Linked DNA regions of Homo sapiens. The protein of the gene in region 4 interacts with the protein of the main gene of each other region in a biochemical or structural test. Each region holds a gene or a part of one and is shown on either strand. Other genes may lie near its edges. The genes, in order: XPO1, TNPO2, CPEB1, EIF4E, LRPPRC, GIGYF2 and HHEX.

Evidence for each region.
Region 1: the proteins of EIF4E (region 4) and XPO1 form a complex in vitro, tested with the Homo sapiens proteins (one study listed by BioGRID).
Region 2: the proteins of EIF4E (region 4) and TNPO2 form a complex in vitro, tested with the Homo sapiens proteins (one study listed by IntAct).
Region 3: the proteins of EIF4E (region 4) and CPEB1 form a complex in vitro, tested with the Homo sapiens proteins (one study listed by BioGRID).
Region 5: the proteins of EIF4E (region 4) and LRPPRC form a complex in vitro, tested with the Homo sapiens proteins (one study listed by BioGRID).
Region 6: the proteins of EIF4E (region 4) and GIGYF2 form a complex in vitro, tested with the Homo sapiens proteins (one study listed by IntAct).
Region 7: the proteins of EIF4E (region 4) and HHEX form a complex in vitro, tested with the Homo sapiens proteins (one study listed by BioGRID).

The regions. Positions count from the first base shown.
Region 1 is NC_000002.12:61,479,357-61,482,856, reverse strand, and holds part of XPO1 (exportin-1), read left to right. Parts: exon of another isoform or gene 1-230; intron 231-317; coding exon 318-477; intron 478-1,575; coding exon 1,576-1,672; intron 1,673-2,273; exon of another isoform or gene 2,274-2,532; intron 2,533-3,500. UniProt on the Homo sapiens protein: Mediates the nuclear export of cellular proteins (cargos) bearing a leucine-rich nuclear export signal (NES) and of RNAs.
Region 2 is NC_000019.10:12,710,433-12,713,932, reverse strand, and holds part of TNPO2 (transportin-2), read left to right. Parts: intron 1-2,319; coding exon 2,320-2,380; intron 2,381-2,471; coding exon 2,472-2,637; intron 2,638-3,159; coding exon 3,160-3,312; intron 3,313-3,500. UniProt on the Homo sapiens protein: Probably functions in nuclear protein import as nuclear transport receptor. Serves as receptor for nuclear localization signals (NLS) in cargo substrates.
Region 3 is NC_000015.10:82,640,864-82,644,363, reverse strand, and holds part of CPEB1 (cytoplasmic polyadenylation element-binding protein 1), read left to right. Parts: intron 1-2,681; exon of another isoform or gene 2,682-2,739; intron 2,740-3,498; exon of another isoform or gene 3,499-3,500.
Region 4 is NC_000004.12:98,901,634-98,905,133, reverse strand, and holds part of EIF4E (eukaryotic translation initiation factor 4E), read left to right. Parts: intron 1-3,151; coding exon 3,152-3,258; intron 3,259-3,500. UniProt on the Homo sapiens protein: Acts in the cytoplasm to initiate and regulate protein synthesis and is required in the nucleus for export of a subset of mRNAs from the nucleus to the cytoplasm which promotes processes such as RNA capping, processing and splicing.
Region 5 is NC_000002.12:43,975,490-43,978,989, forward strand, and holds part of LRPPRC (leucine-rich PPR motif-containing protein, mitochondrial precursor), read right to left. Parts: intron 1,788-3,500; coding exon 1,666-1,787; intron 1,564-1,665; coding exon 1,505-1,563; intron 741-1,504; coding exon 654-740; intron 1-653. UniProt on the Homo sapiens protein: May play a role in RNA metabolism in both nuclei and mitochondria. In the nucleus binds to HNRPA1-associated poly(A) mRNAs and is part of nmRNP complexes at late stages of mRNA maturation which are possibly associated with nuclear mRNA export.
Region 6 is NC_000002.12:232,784,331-232,787,830, forward strand, and holds part of GIGYF2 (GRB10-interacting GYF protein 2), read left to right. Parts: intron 1-2,819; coding exon 2,820-2,999; intron 3,000-3,500. UniProt on the Homo sapiens protein: Key component of the 4EHP-GYF2 complex, a multiprotein complex that acts as a repressor of translation initiation. In the 4EHP-GYF2 complex, acts as a factor that bridges EIF4E2 to ZFP36/TTP, linking translation repression with mRNA decay.
Region 7 is NC_000010.11:92,692,955-92,696,147, reverse strand, and holds the end of HHEX (hematopoietically-expressed homeobox protein HHEX), read right to left. Parts: intron 1,602-3,193; coding exon 1,380-1,601; 3' UTR 501-1,379; downstream 1-500. UniProt on the Homo sapiens protein: Recognizes the DNA sequence 5'-ATTAA-3'. Transcriptional repressor. Activator of WNT-mediated transcription in conjunction with CTNNB1.

The DNA.
Region 1 (3,500 bases), on a different chromosome or scaffold from region 4:
GGTCAGGAGTTCGAGAACAGCCTGGCCACCATGGTGAAACTGTCTGTACTAAAAATACCATAAAAAAATAAAAGATACAATAAAAATACTGGGCATGGTGGCATGTGATTGCAATCCCACCTATTCGGGAGGCTGAGGCAGGAGAATGGCTTGGACCGAGGAGGCAGAGGTTGCAGTGAACTAAGATTGCGCCACGGCATTCCAGCTTGGGTGACAGAGCGAGACTCCGTCTAAAAAAAAAAAACAAAACAAAAAAAAACGCTAAGATCTATAGTTATATTACATTTTGGAGTTAATAATTTTCTTCTTATCAACAGGTTTAACAATGCATGCATCAATTCTTGCATATATGTTTAATTTGGTTGAAGAAGGAAAAATAAGTACATCATTAAATCCTGGAAATCCAGTTAACAACCAAATCTTTCTTCAGGAATATGTGGCTAATCTCCTTAAGTCGGCCTTCCCTCACCTACAAGAGTAAATATACCTTTTAATAAACGTAGAATGTTCCTGGTCGGGCACAGTGGCTCACACCTGTAATCCCAGCACTTTGGGAAGCCTAAGGTGGGAGGATTGCTTGGGCCCAAAAGTTGGAGACCAACCTAGACAACAAAACAAGATCCCGTCTCTACAAAAAAAAAAGTAGTCAGAAGTGGTATGCATCTGTAGGACCAGCTGTTGGAGAGGCTGAGGCGAGAGGGTTGTTTGCATCCTGGAGTTTAAGACTGCAGTGAGCTATGATCGCACCACTGTACACCAGCCTGGGTGATAGAGTGAGACCCTGCCTCTTTAAAAAAGCAAAAAAAAAAAAAAAAAAAAAAAGGCCACGCACGGTGGCTCATGACTGTAATCCCAACACTTTGGGAGGCTGAGGTGGGTGAATCACAAGGTCAGGAGTTCAAGACCAGCCTGGCCAAGATGGTGAAACCCCGTTTCTACTAAAAATACAAAAAATTAGTTGGGCATGGTGGTGGGTGCCTGAAATCCCAGCTACTTGGGAGGCTGAGGGGGAGAACTGCTTGAACCCAGGAGGCAGAGGTTGCAGTGAGCCGAGATTGTGCCACTGCACTCCAGTGTGGGTGACAGAGCAAGACTGTCTCAAAAAATAAAAAGGCTGGGCACGGTGGCAAACGCCTGTAATCCAAGCACTTTGGGAGGCCTAGGCGGGCAGATTACCTGAGGTCAGGAGTTTGAGATTTGCCTGACCAACATGGAGAAACCCTGTCTCTACTAAAAATACAAATTAGCCGGGCATGGTGGTGCATGCCTGTAATCCCAGCTACTTGGGAGGCTGAGGCAGGAGAATAGCTTCAGAGGTTGCGGTGAGCCGCGATTGTGCGATTGTACTCCAACCTGGTAAACGAGCAAAACTTTGTCTCAAAAATTAAAAAAAAATTCTTGATTAAAAAAAAAAAACATTATTGGGACGCTGAGGCAGGAGAATGTCTTGAACCCGGGAGGCAGAGATTACAGTGAGCAGAGATCATGCCACTGTACTCCAGCCTGGTGACAGAGCAATACTCTGTCTCGGGGGAAAAATAAATCATTATTTAATCATTGTGTTTTGATTTGCAGTGCTCAAGTAAAGCTCTTTGTGACAGGGCTTTTCAGCTTAAATCAAGATATTCCTGCTTTCAAGGAACATTTAAGAGATTTCCTAGTTCAAATAAAGGTATGTATTTATTTGCTCTTGCAGAAATATTAGGGGTAGATGTGACCACTTTTATGTTACATTGTAGAATTTTTATCACTTGATTTGTCATGCCAAATAAATGGGGTTTCAAGATAATACGTTTACACAATCTCTGTAATCAAAAAACCTGAGACTGGTAATACAGTGAAAAACTAAAGTCCAATAAGGATAGATATGTTTGAGATGTTATTCGGATAAACTTATTACTAATGTAATTCATTTTAGGTAGTCTTAAATGTATAATGGAATATTGGGTAAGAAAAACGTTGGTAGTTCTTTTTATAATTTTATACCAATTTTGTTAGTTGAGGGAACTTGTGAAAGTTACTAGATAGAATGTCTTTCTTCTGCTGTTATACAGTGCTTTATTCATACTTTTGGGAAGGGTTTTTCTTTGAACATCTTGCTTTAAAGAAATTTGGAAGTACTGTGAAACCCTAAGTAGTTGATGAATAGTTTATCCATGATTGTTGAATAAGAATTAGTCTCTTAGCTCTTAAATATTTTCTCCAAAATACAAAGGTTTTTTTTTTTTACTGTAAAAATATTAGCCAATTTTTAAAAAACTAATGAAAGTTACCTAGGCTGGGCGCAGTTGCTCATGCCTGTAATCCCAGCACTTTGGGAGGCCAAGGTGGGTGGGTCACCTGATGTCGGGAGTTTGAGACTAGCACGGCCAACATGGTGAAACCCCCGTCTCTACTAATAATACAAAAATTAGCCAGGCGTGGTGGCGCACAGCTGTATTCGCAGCTACTTGAGAGGCTGAGGCAAGAGAATTGCTTGAACCCACGAGGCAAAGGTTGCGGTGAGCCGAGATCACGTCATTGCACTCCAACCTGGGTGACAAGAGTGAAACTTCATCTCAAAAAAAAAAAAAAAAAGTTAACTGATAGCTACGAAGTCAATGATAATATAACTAAACTTAATTTAATGACAGTTATTAATTAGCCTTAGGAGAAACATCTTTCTTGGTATCTTGGCATATGAAGAATTTTTAGCTGGGCACAGTGGCTCACACCTGTAATCCCAGCACTTTGGGAGGCCGAGGCAGACAGATCAGTTGAGGTCAGGAGTTCAGGATCAGCCCGGCCAACATGGTGAAACCTCATCTCTACTAAAAATACAAAAATTAGCCAGGTCTGGTGGCAGGTGCCTGTAGTCCCAGCTACTCGGGAGGCAGAGGCAGGAGAATCACTTGAACCCAGGAGGCAGAGGTTTCAGTGAGCTGAGATCATAACACTGCACGCCAGCCTGGGCGACAGAGCAAGACTGCCTCTCAAAAGAAAAGAGAAAAAAGTGTCTGGGTGCAGTGGCTCATGCCTGTAATCCTAGCACTTTGGGAGGCCGAGACAGGTGGATTGTCTGAGCTTGGGAGTTTGAGATCAGCCTGGGCAACATGGTGAAACTACGTCTCTAGTAAAAATACAAAAAATGAGCCAGATGTGGTGGTGCCTGTAATCCCAGCTGCTGGGGAGGCTGAGGCAGGAGAATTGCTTGCATCTTGGAGGAAGAGGTTGAGATAATGTGCTGGGGCTACAGAACAAGACTCTATCACAAAGAGAACAAAATTTGTGTGAATACATAGTAGGTGTATATACTTAGGGGATGGGATGCATGAGATACTTCGGTAGAAGCATACAATGCATAATAATCACATTGAAGACTATTTACTGTAAGGTATCACACCATTTTTTTTGTTTTTTTTGGGGGGGCACAGTCTCGCTTTTATCACCCAGGCTGGAGAGCAGTGGCGTGATCTTGGCTCACTGCAACCTCCGCCATGCAGGTTCAAGTGATTCTCCTG
Region 2 (3,500 bases), on a different chromosome or scaffold from region 4:
TCAGCCTCCCAAGTAGCTGGGATTACAGGCACATCCCACCACACCTAGCTAATCTTTTCTAAGTTTTAGTAGAGATGAGGTCTTGCTAAGTTGCTCTGGCTGGTCTCGGATCCCTGGCCTCAAGCAGTCCTCCTGTCTTGGTCTCCTAAAGTGTTGAGATTACAGGTGCGAGCCACTGTACCCAGCCCCCAGATCATTATTATTATTATTTTGAAATTTCTGTTTTTGAGACGGAGTCTCACTCTGCTGCCCAGGCTGGAGGGCAGTGGCACAATCTCGGCTCACTGCAACCTCCGCCCCTCGGGTTCAAGCGATTCTCTTGCCTCAGCTTCCTGACCTTGTGTTCTGCCCACTTTGGCCTCCCAAAGTGCTAGGATTACAGGCGTGAGTCACCACGCCCAGCATATTGTATGTTTATTTATTTATTTATTTATTTATTTATTTATTTATCATTCATTAGAGGTGAGGTCTCACTATATTGTCCCAATTGGTCTCAAACTTATGGGCTCAGGCAATCCTCCTGCATTGGTCTCCCAAAGTGCTATAATGACAGGTGTGAGCCCCTGTGCCCGGCCCCAAATTATTGATAACAGTCTAGGGCTGGGCAGACGGCTCCTGGGGAGTGATGAGACCTAGATGAGCAGGTGATGAAGGCTCTGTCACTTACAACTCTGGGCTGCAGCTGAGGGGCTGGCTGCCTAGTCTGTTTGCTCCCCTACTCTGGCTAGTCTCTGCCCTATCTCAGGAAAGTGGCCAGGAATAGGACCGCATGTCCCTGCCTTAATGTTGTGCTAGGGACCAGGCACTGTACCAAGATTTTCAGTGTATTCAGGGGTCTATAATCCACTGAGTGGCCAGGCCTGGGTCAAGAGCTTTCCTGCAGGCTGAGTGCCATGGCTCACGCCTATAATCCTAGCACTTTGGGAGGCTGAGGCAGGAGGATTGCATGAGCCCAGGAGCATGAGGCTGTGGTGAGCTGTGATCGCACCAGTGCACTCCAGCCTGGGTGATAGGGTTACGTAGGGACCAGCCCCACAGGGTCGGTGGGTCTCTTCCTGTGTGCGGCGATGAGAGAGTGTAGAAATAAAGACACAAGACAAAGAGATAATAGAAAAGGCAGCTGGGCCCGGGGGACCACTACCACCAATGCGCGGAGACCGGTAGTGACCCCAAATGTCTGGCTGCGCTGTTATTTATTGCATACAAGGCAGAAGGGGCAGGGTAAAGAATGTGAGTCACCTCCAATGATAGGTAAGGTCACATGGGTCACGTGTCCACTGGACAGGGGGCCCTTCCCTGCCTGGCAGCCGAGGCAGAGAGGGAGAGTAGACAAAGAGAAAGACAGCGTATGCCATTATTTCTGCATATCAGGGACTATTAGTATTTTCACTAATTTACTACTGCTATCTGGAAGGCAGAGCCAGGTGTACAGGATGGAACATGAAGGCAGACTAGGAGTGTGACCACTGAAGCACAGCATCTCAGGGAGACGGTTAGGCCTCCGGATAACTGCGGGCAAACCTGACTGATGTCAGGCCCTCCACAAGAGGTGGAGGAGCAGAGTCTTCTCTAAACTCCCCCGGGGAAAGGGAGACTCCCCCACTTTCCTGGTCTGCTAAGTAGCGGGTGTTGTTCCTTGACACCTTTTGCTACCGCTGGACCATGATCCGCCTGGTAACGGGCGTCTTCCCAGATGCTGGCGTCACCGCTAGACCAAGGAGCCCTCTGGTGGCCCTGTCCGGGCATAACAGAAGGCTCGCACTCTTGTCTTCTGGTCACACCTCACTATGTCCCCTCAGCTCCTATCTCTGTATGGCCTGGTTTTTCCTAGGCTATGATTATAGAGCGAGGATTATCATAATATTGGAATAAAAAGTAATTGCTACAAACTAATGATTAATGATATTCATATATAATCATATCTAAGATCTATATCTGGTATAACTATTCTTGTTTTATATTTTATTATACTGGAACAGCTCGTGTCCTCTGTCTCTTGCCTCGGTGCCTGGGTGGCTTGCCGCCCACAGGGTTAGACCCTGCTTCTTAAGAAAAAAAAAAAAAAACCTTTCTCTGGAGGCAGGAGTGGTATCATTTATATCCTAATCATAGCGGCAGAGACTAGATTCCGATAATTCCCCAGAGGGAAATGGATCAATTTGCACCTAGCAGTACCATCATGCTCTGCAGGGTCTGCTCTGTGGCTGATTGGGGGGCTGGTCACTCTGTTGGCACCTGTTTGCCTCCTCCCCAAGCTGTGCCTCCCCCCAACTTTTGCCACGGCCCCTGCATCCCCATAAACAGTCCCTCTCTGTGCAGGTTGATCCCCATCTTGGTGAATGGGATGAAGTACTCGGAAATTGACATCATCCTGCTCAAGGTCAGGCAGGGCCCACCCAGCATGGGTGGGCATGGGCGTGGGTGTCGCGGCTGTGGTCCCCAAAGTACTTAACAGTCTGCCTGTCCCCCAGGGGGATGTGGAGGAGGATGAGGCTGTCCCCGACAGTGAGCAGGACATCAAGCCACGCTTCCACAAGTCACGCACGGTCACACTGCCCCACGAGGCTGAGCGGCCTGATGGCTCCGAGGACGCGGAGGATGACGATGATGATGATGCTCTGTCCGACTGGAATTTGAGTGTGTGCCCCTGCCTGGGGGTGGTGGTGGGGTGGCAAGCCCTGGACTCCCTCTTGGGAGGTGACTAGAAGCTGAGGCAGAAGCTGATTAGAAGCTGATCGTGGCCGGGCGCAGTGGCTTACGCCTGTAATCCCAGCACTTTGGAAGGCTGAGGCGGGCGGATCACGAGGTCAGGAGATCAACACCATCCTGGCTAACACAGTGAAACCCCGTCTCTACTAAAAATACAAAAAATTAGTCGGGCGTGGTGTCGGGCGCCTGTAGTCCCAGCTACTCGGGAGGCTGAGGCAGGAAAACGGCATGAACCCAGGAGGCGGAGCTTGCAGTGAGCCGAGATAGCGCCACTGCACTCCGGCCTGGGCGGAAAAAGTGAGACTCCGTCTCAAAAAAACAAAACAAAAAAAAAGAAGCTGATCGTGAAGATTCTGAGCATGATCTCTGATCCTGGGAGTGCAGTCAAGGAGGGTCGGCCACCTGCCTGAGGGGCCGCCCTGAGCCTCCCCATTGTTCCCCCTTCCCCAGGGAAGTGCTCAGCGGCTGCACTGGACGTCCTCGCCAATGTCTTCCGGGAGGAACTGCTGCCCCACCTACTCCCACTACTCAAAGGCCTCCTCTTCCACCCCGAGTGGGTGGTCAAGGAGTCGGGCATCCTGGTGCTGGGCGCCATTGCTGAGGGTGAGTGCGCCTGATCTCTGAGCCCTGTGCTGGCATGAGACTGTAGGGCTGGCCCACATTACTAGCCACACCAATGCCTCAGTTCTCCCTGGAGGCCTACTCACCCCACTCCAAACAGCTCTGAGATCTCAATTCTCCCCTTGGTTCCTGGGCCTGAAAGGAACCCCTGGAGCCCCACAGTGCAAGGC
Region 3 (3,500 bases), on a different chromosome or scaffold from region 4:
CTGGTGCCGTAGCCCAGCCTATTATGTGTGTTCTGTTATGTCAAAGGATCAAGGGGTTATTGGTGGCGTACATTCTAGAAAAAAGGTGGTGGTCTGGGAGCTGGTCACATTTATAGGCAAAGTGAACCTTAACTGCATTGGCAGGAATCCCAGTTGCTGTAGAAGTCAGTGTGGGTCTTCTGAGTGTTAGTACAGCAGTGCTGATGTTAGGAGGAATGTGCTGTGTCTATCATTCCACAATGTATGTCAGAGCAGTTAGCTGATCCTGAGAGCCGGAGGTCTGGGGAAGGCAGGCTCCTCCCACTGTGGGGGTGACCCTCCCAACCCTCTGCACAAAAGGCTCCTTTTTTTCAGGACAGTTAAAATTTCAGTACTAACTTTTTCTGTCTGAGGCAAGGCAAATTTGAAATTATATAATTGTTTTAAGACCTGTAAAAGTAACATGGAGCTTACTAAATCTCACCTTGTCTGTCTTAGCTAAGATTCCCATAATGCTGTCTCTTAGATTTCCAGGAAGAATTAATAAAGGTTAAAAAAAATTTTTTTAAAGCAGTCTGTGGTAAAATCTGAGATAAGCTCCCGGGGCATAAAATAGCCCTGCCCCAGAAATGAGGGGCTGGGGTTTCAATTCTGGATAAAACTTAGAATCCCAGCATTGTACACAGCCACACTTACGGATGTAAAGGGGTATGTACATTTTTTTTTTCCTATATTTCATTTTCAAGGATTTTTTTTTTTTGAGATGGAGACTCTGTTGCCCAAGCTGGAGTGCAGTGGCACAATCTCGGCTCACTGCAACCTCCGCCTCTGGGGTTCAAGCAATTCTTCTGCCTCAGCCTCCCAAGTAGTGGGGACTATAGGCACGCGCCACCACGCCCGGCTAATTTTTGTATTTTTACTAAGATGGGGTTTCACCATATTGGCCAGGCTGGTCTCGAACTCCTGACCTCGTGATCTGTCCGCCTCAGCCTCCCACAGTGCTGGGATTACAGGTGTGAGCCACCGTGCCCAGCCTCATTCCCAAGGATTTAAAGGAGTAAAAAGCATATTCAGAGCTTTTGCCAAAGAATTTTTTTCTGTGAGAATGTAAACTCAGACACAAGCTAGATAGCTTTCTTACCTGTATCCTGGAAAGTTTTTGGAAAGATGAAAACTTTAAAATGTTACCTGCCTCTAGCTGCTTCTTAGCAACCTTTACCAGCAAGGCACTCAGCTATGAGTTCAGTGTTTGTGGATTTGGGGGTGTGGAGTGTGCTGGGGAGGGGAAGGGTGAGGTGACTAAAGTAGCTCTCTGCTGGTGTTATTTTTGCATTTATAACGTTAGGTGTTGTCTGTGCAGGCTTTCTCATTCATTGGTTTCAGGTCCCTTAGCTAAATGATTATTTTCTAAAGTTATGTTTATTTTAAGGGAAAATTAGAGTATTAGTACTTTTGGCTTACAGTTTGAGACAGAAATGCACACCAAACCTAAATATTAATGTTTACACTGTTTTTAGTAGCTAGTATTGGAGGCAGTAAAAGAATCATGGGATCAAATAACAAATTATTTTCTCTGCTATGGAGAAGTTGTGCTAATCTCATCCTGTTCTGCAAATGTGCTTTTCCTAGGCGGTATATAAACTGTACTGACTCTGGGGAGAATTTGCCAGAAAGCCCCTGAGGCTAAAGGGTAGGACGTGGTTTGCACCTAGAAGTTATGGTAGAGGGGGTTATGTAAGAATTTTGCTTCTCTTGTTTGAATTAAGACCCAGAAGCACTGATTGCACCCTTTACCGTTTCTTAAGCCTTTTAAGATTTTATTATTAAGGTTTTTTTTGAGACAAGGTCTCACTGTGTCACCCAGGCTGGCGGGCAGTGGTGCAATCACAGCTTACTGCAGCCTCAAAGCTCCCTGGCTTAAGGGATCCTTCAGCCTCAGCCTCCGAAGTAGCTAGGACTACAGCCATTCAACATGTTTGGCTACTTTTTAAAAAATTTTTTCTTTGAGATGGGGTTTCACTATGTTGGCCAGGCTTATCCTCGGCTCAAGCCATCCTCCTGCCTCAGCCTCCCAGAGTATTGGGATTACAGGTATGAGCCACCATGCAGGCTCTTAAAGCTTTTTGGTCACCATGAACTTTGCTTCCTTTGCACCCAACATTGCAGTTTTGGAAATGCCCTTAGTTTTTTCCTGCCGTTGTTGCAGCCTGCTTTAGAGCGTCTCATCTTCTGTGAGCACAGATTCCGTAGAAAGTTTTTATGTTGAAGATAGGACCTGCCCCAACAGTGCATTTCTCAATTATAGTAAACTAGCTGAAAAAGATTGAACTAAAACATGTATGATGTAATATTTCATATTTTCATAGGAAAATTATCTGACTTGCTGTAAAAAGTTAGTATCCAAATTTCAGAGTGCTAAATTCACATTGTAGATGTAATTTCCAATGAATTTTATTAGGTGTCATTTTAAAGCCCAATGTTAGGGATTATTTTGCCACCCTAATATATAATGTGGTTTTGATTAACTTGGACCTGGGAGGATTCCTGACTGACTGGGGTTGAGCTTTACTTTCAGTAGTTCAGGAGAACACTTAGGCATGGATAACCTTTGAATTCTTTTTTTTTTTTTTTGTATTCTTGAATGGTGGAACAGTCCTTTTAAATTATAGTGAGTTAACACTCTTTGTTTTGATTTATTTAAGGCATTCGTGATGAGTTCCCCTGAGGTAACAGGAGAATCCCCAGAGGGCAGGTCTAAAGGTTGGTTTGTATGCTAAAAACGGGTCTTGGTTGCAAGTAGCTATTGATTTTAGGAGTAACTTGACTAAGAGTGTTACTTGTTTCTTTATTCTTGGCCAGCATAATATGCTGCTTTATGTACCATCCTGACAGATTTAGCCCCACTTCCTACAATCCCCTTTGATAAAAGTGTGGGAGTAGCTCTCCTCTGTTGGAAGAGAACAGTTACTGTGAAGGGCAGGTTGGTTTTTTTGTGTCTTTTTACAGAACACTTAATCTCTTACTACTTAACACCTGTGCTCTCTGCATTCTGGCTTTGTGCTCCTGGGTTCTGGCCCTGACACCATCTGTCTGTCTCCCATGTGTCTGCCCTTTCTCCTGAGGCTTTTTGTTTTTGTTTTTGTTTTTTTTTAAAGCTGTAATCTTGGAATTGTTGTGAAGCTCAAAAGGTGTTAGAGACCTGTCTCCTACATATAACTTGGAGTTGACACCAAAGCCAGATATAATCTCTGACATCCTCTTTTCATGGACTAGGAGAATTAAGTTTAGAATGGAAAGTGATTACCCTAATTTTATACTGTGAGCAGGGAATAGAGACAGAACTTGAACCCACGTTTTCTCATTTCTAGACTAGTACTATTTGTAAAATTCATACACTCTTACCTCTGCTGTGTTGGTCTCTTATTGTACTTGAAATGTCCATTTGGTTTGTAAGACTATGGCTTCCTTTTTTTTTTTTTTCCTTATCTGATCAATCTTGTCTTGTCTTGGTACTTGCAGGC
Region 4 (3,500 bases):
ATATGGTAGGATTTTGCAGTAGAGTTTTGTTTTTAAACTGAATGTAAACTTAAAACTATTTAGTGTCTATAGGAAGCAATCTTAAAAATAAGGTTAGATACCTTAAAATAGAACTTGTTTCTTGAAATATTTTTTAGTTCCCATATAGATCATACGAAAAGATGACTGTCTATGCCCAATAAAAATTTTTATGGTATTTCACATCATTCGTTTTAAAATCTAGTATGTTTAAAAGTGAAGACTAAAGATTTTAAATTAGTATACTTACTGATTCATACATACACACATATTTAAAAATGTGTAGCTCCTTTTTTAAGTTGTTGGAAAAGTACAAAATCATGTGTCCTTTTTTGTTTTGTTTTGAGACTGAGTTTTGCTCTTGTCGCCCAGGCTGGAGAACAGTGGCACGATCTGTGCTCACTGCAATCTCTGCCTCCTGGGTTCAAGCAATTCTCTTGCCTTAGCCTCCCCAGTAGCTGGGATTACAGGCGCGTGCTACCACGCCCAGCTAATTTTTGCATTTTTAGTAGAGATGGGGTTTCACCATGTCGGCCAGGCTGGTCTTGAACTCCTGAGCTCAGGTGGTGCACTTGCCTTGACCTCCCAAAGTGCTGGGATTACAGGCGTGAGCCACCATGCCCGGCCGATTATGTGTTCTTGATATGAAGACTATAGTAATCAGTTACTTACAGTGGGACTTTTATTTTAATTCAAAATAACACTTTAAAATTCTAGGAACTGAATATGTTTTTCCTGAGTGATAACTTGCTTTTAATTCCTGTATGTCCAAAGACTTGAGAGAGAGAGAGAAAGAGGATTGTTTCTTTTTCTTTCTTCCCCTTTCTTCACTGGGTCTCACTTGCTGAGGCTGTTTTCGAACTCCTGGACTCAAGCAGTCCTCTCGCCTTGGCCTCTCAAAGTGCTGCAATTACAGACATAAGTCCCTGCACCCGTTCTGCTTACGTTTCACAAATACTGGGCAGTTGCAAGTTTTGGCTTAGCTGTTCTTCTCTGTTAGGCCAACCAGAGTTACGCTCTGAAAGTGCCAGTTTAGGAGTTAGCCAAAAACCTGTGAGGGATTTTTACATATATTGAGGAGCCCACTTCTCATCTACAGCAGTTTTTCTCTGGTACCCTGTCCCCCAAAGCCTACCTGCCTGCCAGTCTCTCATTGTTTTCATCGAGACTCCCACTGTCTGCCTGGAAACCCATCATTAATTTTAAGCTAGTGGGATAGGAAATGTCATTCAGTAATTATCTGTTTGAACACTTAAATTTACTGGTAAGTAAATGTTGATAAAAATGTTTGGTTTTAAGGCATTACTTACTGTATGTCAATTTTCAGGCCTTAATCATTCTGTGTAAACATTTAAATTTATTCAGTTAAGTAATCAAGTTAATAAGTTCCTGTTGGGTTAAGTACTGTGATTATTGAGTAAAATCAAGACATGGTCTCCGTTCTGGGTGACTTTATAGGCTAATAGAAATTCTTGTACATGTCATATGTTGATAAGAAAAAACATATCCCTTGGGAGGCCAAGGTGGGAGGATTGCTTGAGCTCAGGAGTTTGAGACCAGCCTGGCCAACATGGTGAGACCTTGTCTCTACTAAAAATAAAAAAGAATTAGCCAGGTATCATGGTGCCTATCTGTAGTCCCAGTTACCGTGGAAGCTGAGGCAAGAAGATTGCTTGAGCCAGGGAGATTGAGGCTGCAGTGAGCTATGAGTGAGACCCCATCTCTAAGAAAAATAAAATACAAAAAAAAAAAAAACCCATATTCTTTCAAATAAATATTTACCACCTTTCTGCTCTGCATTCTTTTAGACAATAAATATTTGACTTACATATCTTGTTATGTTAACATAGATCTCTGTTGTTTGCTGCTTCAGTCTGATATCCAAACACTTGTTGCATTGCCCTTTTTTTGGTATCAGTCTTTGTCCTAGTGCCTTTCTTTGGCTCTCTTCTTTTGTTGACAACAATTTATGATAGTATGAAGAGCTACATGGAAGAATGTGGTGAACACCTATTTTAAATTACTGCCCCCAGACTACTTTTCTTTCTGATATTTTTAGATGACAGTGTTAATTTTGTCTAGCCTAAAAGAAGATTTAAGTTCAAGCCAATGTCCATCTTGTTAGGTTCCATTGAAAATATTAAGTTGCCGAACTTTTAGGTTACGATAGGGTAAACAGTATGCCATGAAGGTAAGACCTGCGCATCATTGGCTTGATCACTTTACAAAGCTTTTTTGTCATCATAATGTTGTTTTGTTTTGTTTTGTTTGTTTTTGAGACAGGGTCTTGCCGTGTTGCCCAGGCTGGTCTCAAACTCCTGGGCTCAAGCAATCCTCCTATTAATCCTCCTATTAATCTCCCGAGTAGCTGGGATTGTAGAGACGCACCACAGTGCCCAGTGATACAGTTGTTATACTCTTGAAACTTTAGTTTCCATCCTGTATCCTTCCTGATACCCCCTTCAGTACCATATGCAGTATCTTAATATGATGGTATGTTAAGAAAGATAGAAGATTTTCCCAACTTTGTTGCATAGTCTGTGACAGTCTTCCTGCTATTTAAAAAAAAAAGTGCAAGTGGAAGGATAACTATAAATACTGTTATATTTTCAAATTTGAGAAACCGTTTGCTCTTTGCTCTTAATGAAGAGATATGAGAATAGAGAATGGTTCTTTAGAGTTTGGTCTGTGGTCTGTTTTATGAAGCAATCTGCTTTAATTCCTTCTTCTTAAAAAATACTACTAGTGCCGGGTGTGGTGGCTCACGCCTGTAATCCCAGCACTTTGGGAGGCCAAGGCAGGTGAATCACAAGGTCAGGAGTTCAAGACCAGCCTGACCAACGGGGTGAAACCCCGTCTCTACTAAAAATACAAAAATTAGCCAGGCATGGTGGCACACATCTGTAATCCCAGCTACTTAGGAGGCTGAGGCAGGAGAACTGCTTGAACCTGGGAGGAGGAGGAGGTTGCAGTGAGCCAAGATCGCACGACTGCACTCCAGCCTGGGCAACAGAGAGAGACTCTGTCTCAAAAAAAAAAAATTATCAGCATATCAGTTCAGGTTTAGTTAGAATATTGCTGTCATAGATGTGTTAAGACATTTAAAATAATGTTTTATATTATTTTCCACTAGGAAACCACCCCTACTCCTAATCCCCCGACTACAGAAGAGGAGAAAACGGAATCTAATCAGGAGGTTGCTAACCCAGAACACTATATTAAACATCCCCTACAGAACAGGTAAGCTTTCTAACACCTAGGTTTTCTGAGTTAGGCCACAAGGTAAATTGTGAATGGGGCAAGTTTGAAGGGAAAGTTAGATTATGAGACTAGTTTTAGATATGCTAAGGTTGAGGGTTCTATTTTCACTTGGATGACCCATGACCAGCAGACAGTTTTATGTGTGAGTCTTGAGTTCAAAAGGAGCTATGTGAGAGATTAGTTTGAAAAGTATTGGTCATAATGGAAGCCACATTAGTAAA
Region 5 (3,500 bases), on a different chromosome or scaffold from region 4:
TTTCGAGGTAAGAATAACATTTAGTAAATTACTCTTCAAAAATAAAAATATTTTCCAGAGCAGTTACTTCAGATCAGATCAAGCCCAGTTTCTTTTTTCTTTTTTTTTTTTGAGATGGAGTCTTGCTCTGTCTCCCAGGCTGGAGTGCAATGGTGTAATCTCGGCTCACTGCAACCTCTGCCTCCCGGGTTCAAGCAACGCTCCTGCCTCAGACTCCCAAGTAGCTGGGATTACAGGCACCTGCCATCATGCCCGGCTAAATTTTTATATTTTTGTAGAGACCGGGTTTCACCATGTTGGCCAAGCTGGTCTTGAACTCCTGACCTCAGGTGATCTGCCCACCTCAGCCTCCCAAAGTGCTGGGATTACAGGCATGAGCCACCACGCCCGGCTTCAAGCCCAATTTCTAAAAATTCAAATAAAAGAAAGATTTGTGGAACAAATGTAAAAGCTCATTATAAAAATATTAGTATGCTCTACCTCATATACTACAGATTTTTTTTTGAAGGGATAGACAAATGTATTTTAAGAACTGTCTACAATAATTTTCTCTAATTTAAACCCCACTTAACAAACAAAAAAGGAGTAAAATGACCACTTTAGCATCTCAGCCATCTATCACTTAAGAACCAAAACCTTAGGTTGAACATTACCCAGCTCTGGCATGCCCTGTCACAAGGGCACTGAATACTGCCTCTGTAACTGGGAGATCCTTAGTTTTCATAAATCCAAGAATCTTGCTGCAAAGGAAAAACGAAGATACTCATTGAAAGTATTTATAAGAACACTCTTTACAACATGTACAGAATTAGGCCTTGAGTTACTTTTGTTTTTAAAATATAATAGTAATATACATTTGTTTTAGAAACCACAAAGAAAGAACTAATCCCTTTGATCCCCTTCCCACAAAACCCCACTCTCTAATGTATCAACAGTCTTGAAGTACTATCGATACAAATACTAGATTTTTAAAAATCTGATTATCTGATTTGTCTTACACTACTAATTACCCTTTTAAAAGCATAGTTTCATAAGATTCTTTTAGATAAAAATGAAATTATGTATTCCAATTTATCCCTTATTTTCCAAACCTTCCATTCATAAGTAGTAATAAATTTTACATAAGCAGAGAAATGGTGCAACTGATTTTCTACACTACTTCCAGTTTTATAAATGAATACAGCTTAAATGGTTAAGAACATTTCCCTTAGGAAATATTTAAAAAAAAAAAAAAAAAAGCAAAGTCAGCTTTATAGCTCAACAACTTTATACCTCTCTCCAGTAAATCAAATTTTTAATTAAAATAGCAACTTTTACTTATCTTTTCTCTCTTACACGATAATTTTATATTTTATGTAAGTCAGATTACCAGATTTTCTAGATTAAAACAGTTCTGAAACAATTTCCTCCATTAGGAAGAAGCTTTAAAACAAAGAGTGAACAGACATTAGATTTACAAAATGTACAAATTTGTTCGCTTAAACATGTTCATACAGATCCATACCTGGCACCTTCAATATCTCCTACATTACAATAAGAAGCAATCAATCTCTGGTATGTCACCTGTCAATGAAATGGGCCAGTTAATTTTAAATATACTTTTTTTTCTGAGTAAAGAAAAAAAATGGTGGATGTGAAAATATATTCACAATAGCAACTACTTACTCGATTTGGTTGAATGTTTGCTTCCTCCATTTTTGCCAGGAAATCAGTTGGTGAGAATTTATATTCATTTTGAAGATAGACTTTAAGTAAAGCATTATAGTGACTCACATCATACACAGCACCTACAAATGAAATTTAAAATGAATTTTTAGAAAAGCATTGAAAATCCTATGCTTTAAAGTGGACCTAAATTTAACAAACAAAAAGAGTAAAACTATCACTTTAGCATTTCACCCATCCATCTTGGCGCTCAGACCTATCTACACAGATACTCTGTCACACAGAGCAAGCTAAGCATGTAAGACAGTAATTACTGAGTTACTGTATAGTTACAAGTAACTGCCTATTCGGATATTAAAAGGCCTCTTACTTATGAAGCACAAAATTATCTTCCTGTTAGAAAACGCTGACAATATCCCTATATTTAAAAGTGACTGTAAGATTTTTCTATATAAAGCAGTCCTCACATTACAGACACACTGTGAAGAATGGATTGTAACTTCAGTTCTTTCACACAGTAGGACTGTGCTGGCAATTCTGTCACTCAAAGCCTTCATTTTAAGGATGCATTCCATTTTCAGCTGATGAACATGATCTATGGTATGCTCTTGTTAATTATCTGTATTCTAATGACCTTTGTTTTCTTTGTATCCCTACTGTTTAGGGCCACATCAAATAAGGTTACCACACAGCCTTACTCTACTGAGTCATGACATCATGGTCTTTATATCAATTTTGTGGTAACATGTCTCACTACATTTTCATGCATTAAATTTCACATCTTTATTCAACTGCCTGTGACCATACAGGCCTATGGTTAGTATCTGGGGGTGAGAGTATGTGATTTTAGGCAGCAGAGAGCTGTTCCATTAAATTAATACACATTTTTATCTTAACAGATATGTTTCTTTCATACTATGTTTCAGGCACTATGCTAAGTGTTCCACATATAGTGGCTCACTCAAACTTCACAACAACTTTGAGACACTATTATCAGCCCCATCTTACAGATAGCTCAGATCTGTCAACAGCTCATTCTGTAATTTTGGACAAGTTACTTAAGCTAAAAGATCTCTTGTATCTTTATAAATCTGTAAACAAGAGTCAAACTGGCAAACTACAAGGTTTCTGGCAATATTAATTCAACAAGTATGTATCAAATGCCATTATACACAAAGCATCATGCTACTGTCAAACAGGAAAATAAAGAAGCCATGGATTCCATCCTTATAAAGCAGACACTTATACAGGAGAGACCTATCTGTAAAGAATGTTAATATAATAACACATTGTTAATCTTTATATGGAGGAATTAATGTTATTACTGCTGTGTAATGCTTTTTTCTATTTTAGAATGTAACCTTTTCTGCATATATTTCTCCCAGTTCAATGACTTACTGACATACAGAAATTTCTAATTTTTAGAGATTCAATATTTTAGCTTTACTTTTCTGCTCCTTTTATACTTATAAAATCCTTTTCCATTCTGAAAGTCAACATTTATCTATATAGTTTTTAACTTAAAAAAAAATCAACTTATCAAAATGTATTCTAGATGTATTCAAAACTGTGAAGGAAGAATCTGTCTTTATCCTGTAGTTTTTTTCACATAGGTCCTACTCACTTTTTGAAGGATAGTCCTAAATATTTTATTTATCTGTAGCTATACTTTCTTGGATTCTTTTCTCTATTTTCTTTTATAACTAGAAGAGGTATGGATTCTTAAACATTTAGTGAGTCCAGCTAATTACTGTGAGCTGATTTTCTGGGATTTTGCAGATTAAACAATCACATCATCTAAAAATAATAACTTCTTGTATTGTTTCACATCTTAT
Region 6 (3,500 bases), on a different chromosome or scaffold from region 4:
TAGCTGAGTGTGGTGGCATGTGCCTGAGGTTCTAGCTACTTACACGAAATAATTTCTTTTTTTTTTTTTTTTTTTTTGAGACGGAGTCTTGCTCTGTCACCCAGGCTGGAGAGCAGTGGCGTGATCTGGGCTCACTGCAAGCTCCACCTCCCAGGTTCATGCCATTCTCCTGCCTCAGCCTCCTGAGTAGCTTGGGACTACAGGCGCCCGCCACCGCGCCCGGCTAATTTTTTCTATTTTTAGTAGAGATGGGGTTTCATCGTGTTAGCTTGATCTGACCTCGTGATCTGCCCGCCTTAGCCTCCCAAAGTGCTGGGATTACAGGTGTGAGCCACCGCGCCTGGCCACAAAATAATTTATAAAAGCTGCAATATGGTTTTTGATATATCAGATATTACATAATAACTACAATAGATTTAGATTATGACTTCTCTGGTAAACCAAGTGATATAGTTTGGATGTTTGTCCCCTCCAGATCACATGTTGAAATGTGATCGCCAGTGTTGGAGGTGGGGCCTGGTGGGAGGTGTTTGGGTCATGAGGGTGGATCCCTCATCCCCTCCCCACTGTAATGAGTTCAAGAGTCTGGGATCTCTGTCATCTTTCTTGCTCCCTCTCTCACCATGTGACATACTTGCTCTCACTTCACCTTCCACAATGAGTAACAGCTTCCTGAGGTCTCACTGGAAGCCAGACAGATGCTGGTGCCATGCTTGTATAGTCTGCAGAACCACGAGCCAAATAAACAACTTCTTCTTCTTTTTTTTTTTTTAATAAATTACCCAGCCTCAGGTATTCCTTTATAGCCATGCAAAATGGACTAATAAACCAAGGAAAGCCAGAATATAGTTCTGACATTCCAGACACGTCCTGCAGGTAAGAGCAAGGTCATAGATAATAAAACCCTTGCTTGGTGGTTCAAAACAGCAAACATTTATTATCTCAGTTTCTGTGGGTTGGGAATCTAGAAGCAGCTTAGCCTAGCTGGGTGGTTCTGGCCCAGGGTTCTTGTAAGGCTGCACTCAAGGTGTCAGCCCATGCTGCAGTCTCTCAAAGCTCAACTGGGGTTTGATCCACTTCCAGACTCACTCATGTTTCTGGTGGTAAGTCTCAGTTCTTTGCCATGCAAGCTTCTCCACGAGGTCTGTGTCACTACATGGCAACTAGTGTCCTTCAGAGAAAGTGTCCAAGATGGAAACTACAGTCTTCTTTAATATTTTAAGTGGCATCTCATCACTTCAGCTGCATTCTGTTAGTCCAGCTTATAATTGGGGGTAGAGGATTCCACAGAGATCAGCAGTCAGGGATTGTTGGTGAGCTCTTAGAGGCTGTCCACCACAATAAGAAAGCAGCAGATCATGTCTTCCATTCTCCCAAGATATTTTATCTTTCAGTAGAATGATACCTAGTAGCAGACTAACAACCATATGGACAAGCAGGATGCTGAATCTCAATATATGTAAGATGGAATATAACAGAATGACCAGAAATTAGAATTTCATTTTCATATGCTGTTGTTCAATTATTTTTTCACTTTTAGTATGGATTAATTAAAAGGATTGAGTTTGTCATTATGAGAACTTGAACTTTTATTGTTATAAACTGAGGACATCAATGTATGTTATTCTGGATTTTCAACTATTTTGATGTGAGATTTTATAAATGTTATGAGTTATATATGTTAGCACATGTGGAATGGTGACTGAAGAATTTGTTTGCACAATTTAGAATGATCTTGTCCTTTTAAAATACCAGTTTAGTTTACTTGGTATACCAGGCTCTCTTTTGACATTAATGTAACTTTTGAGACATTAGGTTAGACATAGCTTAGCTTTAAATTCTGTCCAAAAGCAATTTATGGTATGCCTGTATTGTATTAGGTGCTAGAGTAAATGAGGTTATACTACTTTTCAATTTTTTTTTTTGAGACGGAGTCTTGCTCTGTCACCCAGGCTGGAGTACAGTGTCGCGATCTCTGCTTACCGCGACCTCCGCCTCCTGGGTTCAAGCCATTCTCCTGCCTCAGCCTCCTGAGTAGCTGGGATTACAGGCACTTGTCACCACACCCAGCTAATTTTTGTATTTTGAGTAGACATGAGGTTTCACCACATTGGCCAGGCTGGTCTCCCAACTCCTGACCTCGTGATCCACCTGTCTCGGCCTCCCAAAGTGCTGGGATTATAGGCGTGAGCCACCACGCGGCCTGCTTTTCAGTTTATAATCTGTTTTGGAATGAAAGACGGCCTGAAATGTACAGATATCATGTTTAGGCAGAATCACCAGTAGGTGTTGGTTATATAAAGTATGTTGTATGATGAAAAATATCTTATAACTTTAAAAAGTATGTGCTAGTAAGGAAGGATTGGCAAGATACACTGTTAGTGAAAACAGCAAACAAAACAACATTTATAACATCCTGAGGGTGGCGTTTGTGTGTGTGGATGAGGGAGCTATGTATACATGTGTAAGTGTACCCATGGACAGTGTTTGGAAAGACTTTATAAGAAACTTGGTGATGGTTCCTTCTGGGGAGTACGACTCTGAGGGTCTTGTGTAGGAAGATGGACTTTTCATTGTACGCTTTTTCAAAAAAAATTTTACATAATATTTTTGTTTAAAAAAATTGCCCAGTCTCTGAACATGGCTTTAAGAAATGTGTCTAATAATATATACATATACCCACTGTTATTTTAGTGATTTTTTTCTGAATATTGAAATGGACCCATTTGCAGGAAAGCTTGATTTGAGCTGTGAAGTTTGTTTTCAAAGCCTATACTGGCAGAGGCTCATGTTTACTTACCATATTATTTTCTTTATAGGGAGACCAAATTTTGAGGAAGGTGGACCAACATCAGTAGGGAGAAAGCATGAATTTATACGCTCAGAAAGTGAAAATTGGCGCATCTTTAGAGAGGAACAAAATGGAGAAGATGAAGATGGAGGTTGGCGACTAGCTGGATCAAGGAGGGATGGAGAGAGGTGGCGACCTCACAGTCCTGGTAAGAATTCTGTTGAGTAAAGGCACACAGGGACTGAAATAAGGGAAAGTTTGATGGAAATAGGGATTAAATGAAAAAGATAAACTGGCTTAAAAAATGTGGGGGTGGATTCATATTATTTATGCTGTCACAGTTTTATTACTAGAAAAAATTGCAACATAAAAATTTCCTACATCTATTCAGTTGATTGAAATCACTTTTCTATTTTTCTGGGGCAAATAGTGTAGTTTAATGGGAAGCACCTGCGCTCAACTGCAGAAATGAGGGTTTCATTCAGTTTTGTCTACCTCTAAATCTCTGAATCTTTTTTAGCATTCTTTAAGATTTATAAATGTGTAAAAATTACACACTTGAAATATGTGCTTCCCTCCCCAACAATGAGTGTTTTTCCTAACAAGAAAGGGTTTATTCTTTCATTTTTTCCCTTTTGAAAATGTGATTTAACCTTATTTGAAGAATAAGCTTTAAACCTAGGTCAGAAACATAATCACAAGTTCATTC
Region 7 (3,193 bases), on a different chromosome or scaffold from region 4:
GTTCTCAGCGCAAACCACCTCCCCGCTCCCCTCGGCCAGGGCCCCCCATCCCCCCACTCGGACTTCCCCACCCCGGGCCCCGCCGCGCGGAGCGGGTTCCCGAGCCCCGGCCGCCGAGGGATGACGCGGTGTTGACTCAGCCGGTCAAGGACGGCGAGGGCCAGCCCGGCTGCCGAGGAGAATCGATGGGGTCCGGACGGCCCCGCGCTTCACGGCGCAGCGGGCCTGGGCCTCGGCTCTTCCCGTCGCCTGGCGTGCCCGGGACTCGAACCCATCAGGCTCAGAATCCGCCGGCAGGAGCAGAGCCCCAAGGCAAACGGCCCGGGAGAGGCCCCAACCCACGTTCCAGGCACCCACCCGCGGTCCTGGGACTCGGAACGAGAGCCCCAGCAAGATCCAGCCCCAGTCACTTCCTGTCCCCAGAGCCCAGCACCGCGCCAAGCACCCAGGAGGTCAAGAAAAGGTGTGCAGACTTTTTAAAATCAAAGAATTAGACTTGCAACGAGGTCAGTCGTCCCACGGACGGCTTTATTTTATAGTCAAGTTACTTATTAAAAAAAAAACACATTTTGGCCATTTTTTTTACAGTGAACAATTCTATATACACATTATAAACATTGTTTGATATAAAACAGTATCTACAATCTACTTACATTTAATTAACCTGTGACTTCTAGTTCATCTGCGATTAACTTTAGTCAGGTCAGTTTCTCTGCTTGAATTGGGAGGTACTATCCCCTTAACACCTTGGTCAAACAGGTACTAAGTGATAGTGCAAAACAAGCATTTAAGATTCTCATCAACCATATCTCTGACAAAAAGAACACACATCTCTGAGACAAGAGCTCTGAAATGTTTTTGGATTTGAGACAGCAGTATAAGAATGTCATATAAAAGTAAAGAATGTTTTCCTTTTAAAATACTCCAAGGCTGCCTGAAATGTAGGCACCTCTGGATTTGGGGTACCCCTTTGCCTTTCCATTAAGTGGGAGATAAACAGATTACAGAAAAGTCGTTCAAGAAGGTCCTATTAAAACCTTTAAAGCTATAACTTAAAAATTTAACAAAAAGTTCAAAATTAATTTTTTATAAATAGTGAAAACCACTAACTGTTTTTTTAAAGGGGGAAGAATTTAATCACTATAATGTCACTTTATCAAAACAACCTAAGAGCAGTACATAAACTATTTGTTAAGTCAAAATTAAGGTCTCCATGTAGGTTTGTTAATTGAGCAGTGCACCAAATATTTTTAGGTTTCCAGAATACCAGAGAATTGATTCCCTTTCTTATATAGCCTTCCAGTTCTTCTATGAAGATTTTCTGTAGCAAAACATTATTCCTAAATCCAGTTTTCTGAACATGCCAATGCCAGTGGTCATCATCCAGCATTAAAATAGCTTTTATCGCCCTCAATGTCCACTTCCTGATCAGAATCCTCTGAAATCTCTGATTCAAGGTCTTCCTGGGAGGCAGGGGAGGGCGAACATTGAGAGCTATCCAAAGAAGCACCTTTATTCTGTTCACTGGGCAAATCTTGCCTCTGATCACAGGAACTGTCCAAACTTTCCAGTTCTTCTTTTTTATTGCTTTGAGGGTTCTCCTGAATAAAGGAAATGAAAATGGAGATTGGAAGGATCATAAAATATGGATAGGTGAGAGGAATAAATCAAAATGTCTCTTCATCCTATTCCATCTTTTAATTTTTAGTTTACTGAGTGTTTTCAGTTTATAATCTTATTCAGGAGATACATACTTGTGCTTTTTGCTCACTTTGGAAGAAAAGTTTCTGTCATATCAAAGATTATATGCTTAAAAGATGAGAACCAGTCATGAACATAAGGGCAGATACATTATACCAATTGAACACAAATTCTGGTTACTTAACACCAGCCCAGACCCATGGTTTCAATATTCTCAAAAGTTTAAGGGGGAAAGAAAATCAGATCACTACAGATACACCTTAACTTCATTCTTTAAATATTTAAACCTTGCCAATTAACAGTCTTTCAGACATTTTAAAAATAAGAATGCTAACTGGTGAATTAAGAATAAAGTTTCAATTATTAGACTGGATCTTTTTTCATTCATTTTCTGGAGTAAATTTATAAACATCTACATGTGTAAATGTTTAACAAGTTACAAAATCATGGCAAAGAAAAAAAATGTGGATCTGGAAGAATGCTGCCAACTGAGAAGGTAGACAATTAGCTACAATTTACTTAAAATCTGGGGCAAATTTCTGGGAAATATCCCCATATTACATAGAAACCACTATTTTTAAGGTCTCTGGTAAACTAGAGTCAAGCCTTTGACCAAGAACTATTAAGTATATAAGCTAGTGAATTTTTAATCCTATACTTGTCTAAAATGCATATAAATACTACATAGAAATATTACAACATCTATTTGTTATATAGTTGCAAGCCTTATAGTCTCAACAAATAGATGCACACGGTCAGAAATTGAGAGTGGATCTGCAAATATTTAAATCACATTACAGTAATGAAGTTATGGGAATTTTATTTTCTATTTCAAAATATTCTTTGGGACACTTTCTTTTTAATGAAAAAGTAATGATCAATAAATTTTAAAATCCACTTTGCTTTAAATTTCTCCACTCATTGTTTCAAAGTATTTATTATAAACCGTATATACAATGACAAGTGAACAATTCAGCAATTATCAGATAACTTTGGAGAGTATATCCAGATTAGGACATCAAAAATGAATGTTTAGCTTTAAGTCAATAGACCTTCTTTTAAAAACTAAATTAGCCTTTACTTTTTATCACATATTGCGAAACAAGGTCACTGGAAGAAAGACTGTCAGAAAGTTTAAGCTACTTTCCAAACAGGCTTGAATATTTTCTTACAAGTTTTATATTTCATTTTAAGAGCTGGCATTAGATAGAAAATAATTTTTAAACTCCCTGACATTTAATTCTTCTAAAAAACAGTGCAAACAAGACTTAAAGGTGTTTGTTTCTTTATATTTACCCTTGAGTTCTGCCTGGTTTTATTATGGCTGTGTAAATAAAAGAAACAATTTTCTCCCAAAGATAACTGCTTAAGTCATTTACTGTCAATTACTTTATCTTTCCTGCGTTAATTAGATAAACAACATATGGGATTTATAAAACAATTAGCTGGGAGTTTTACTAGCCAGTGTGTGAAAACCCAAGCATAATTGATA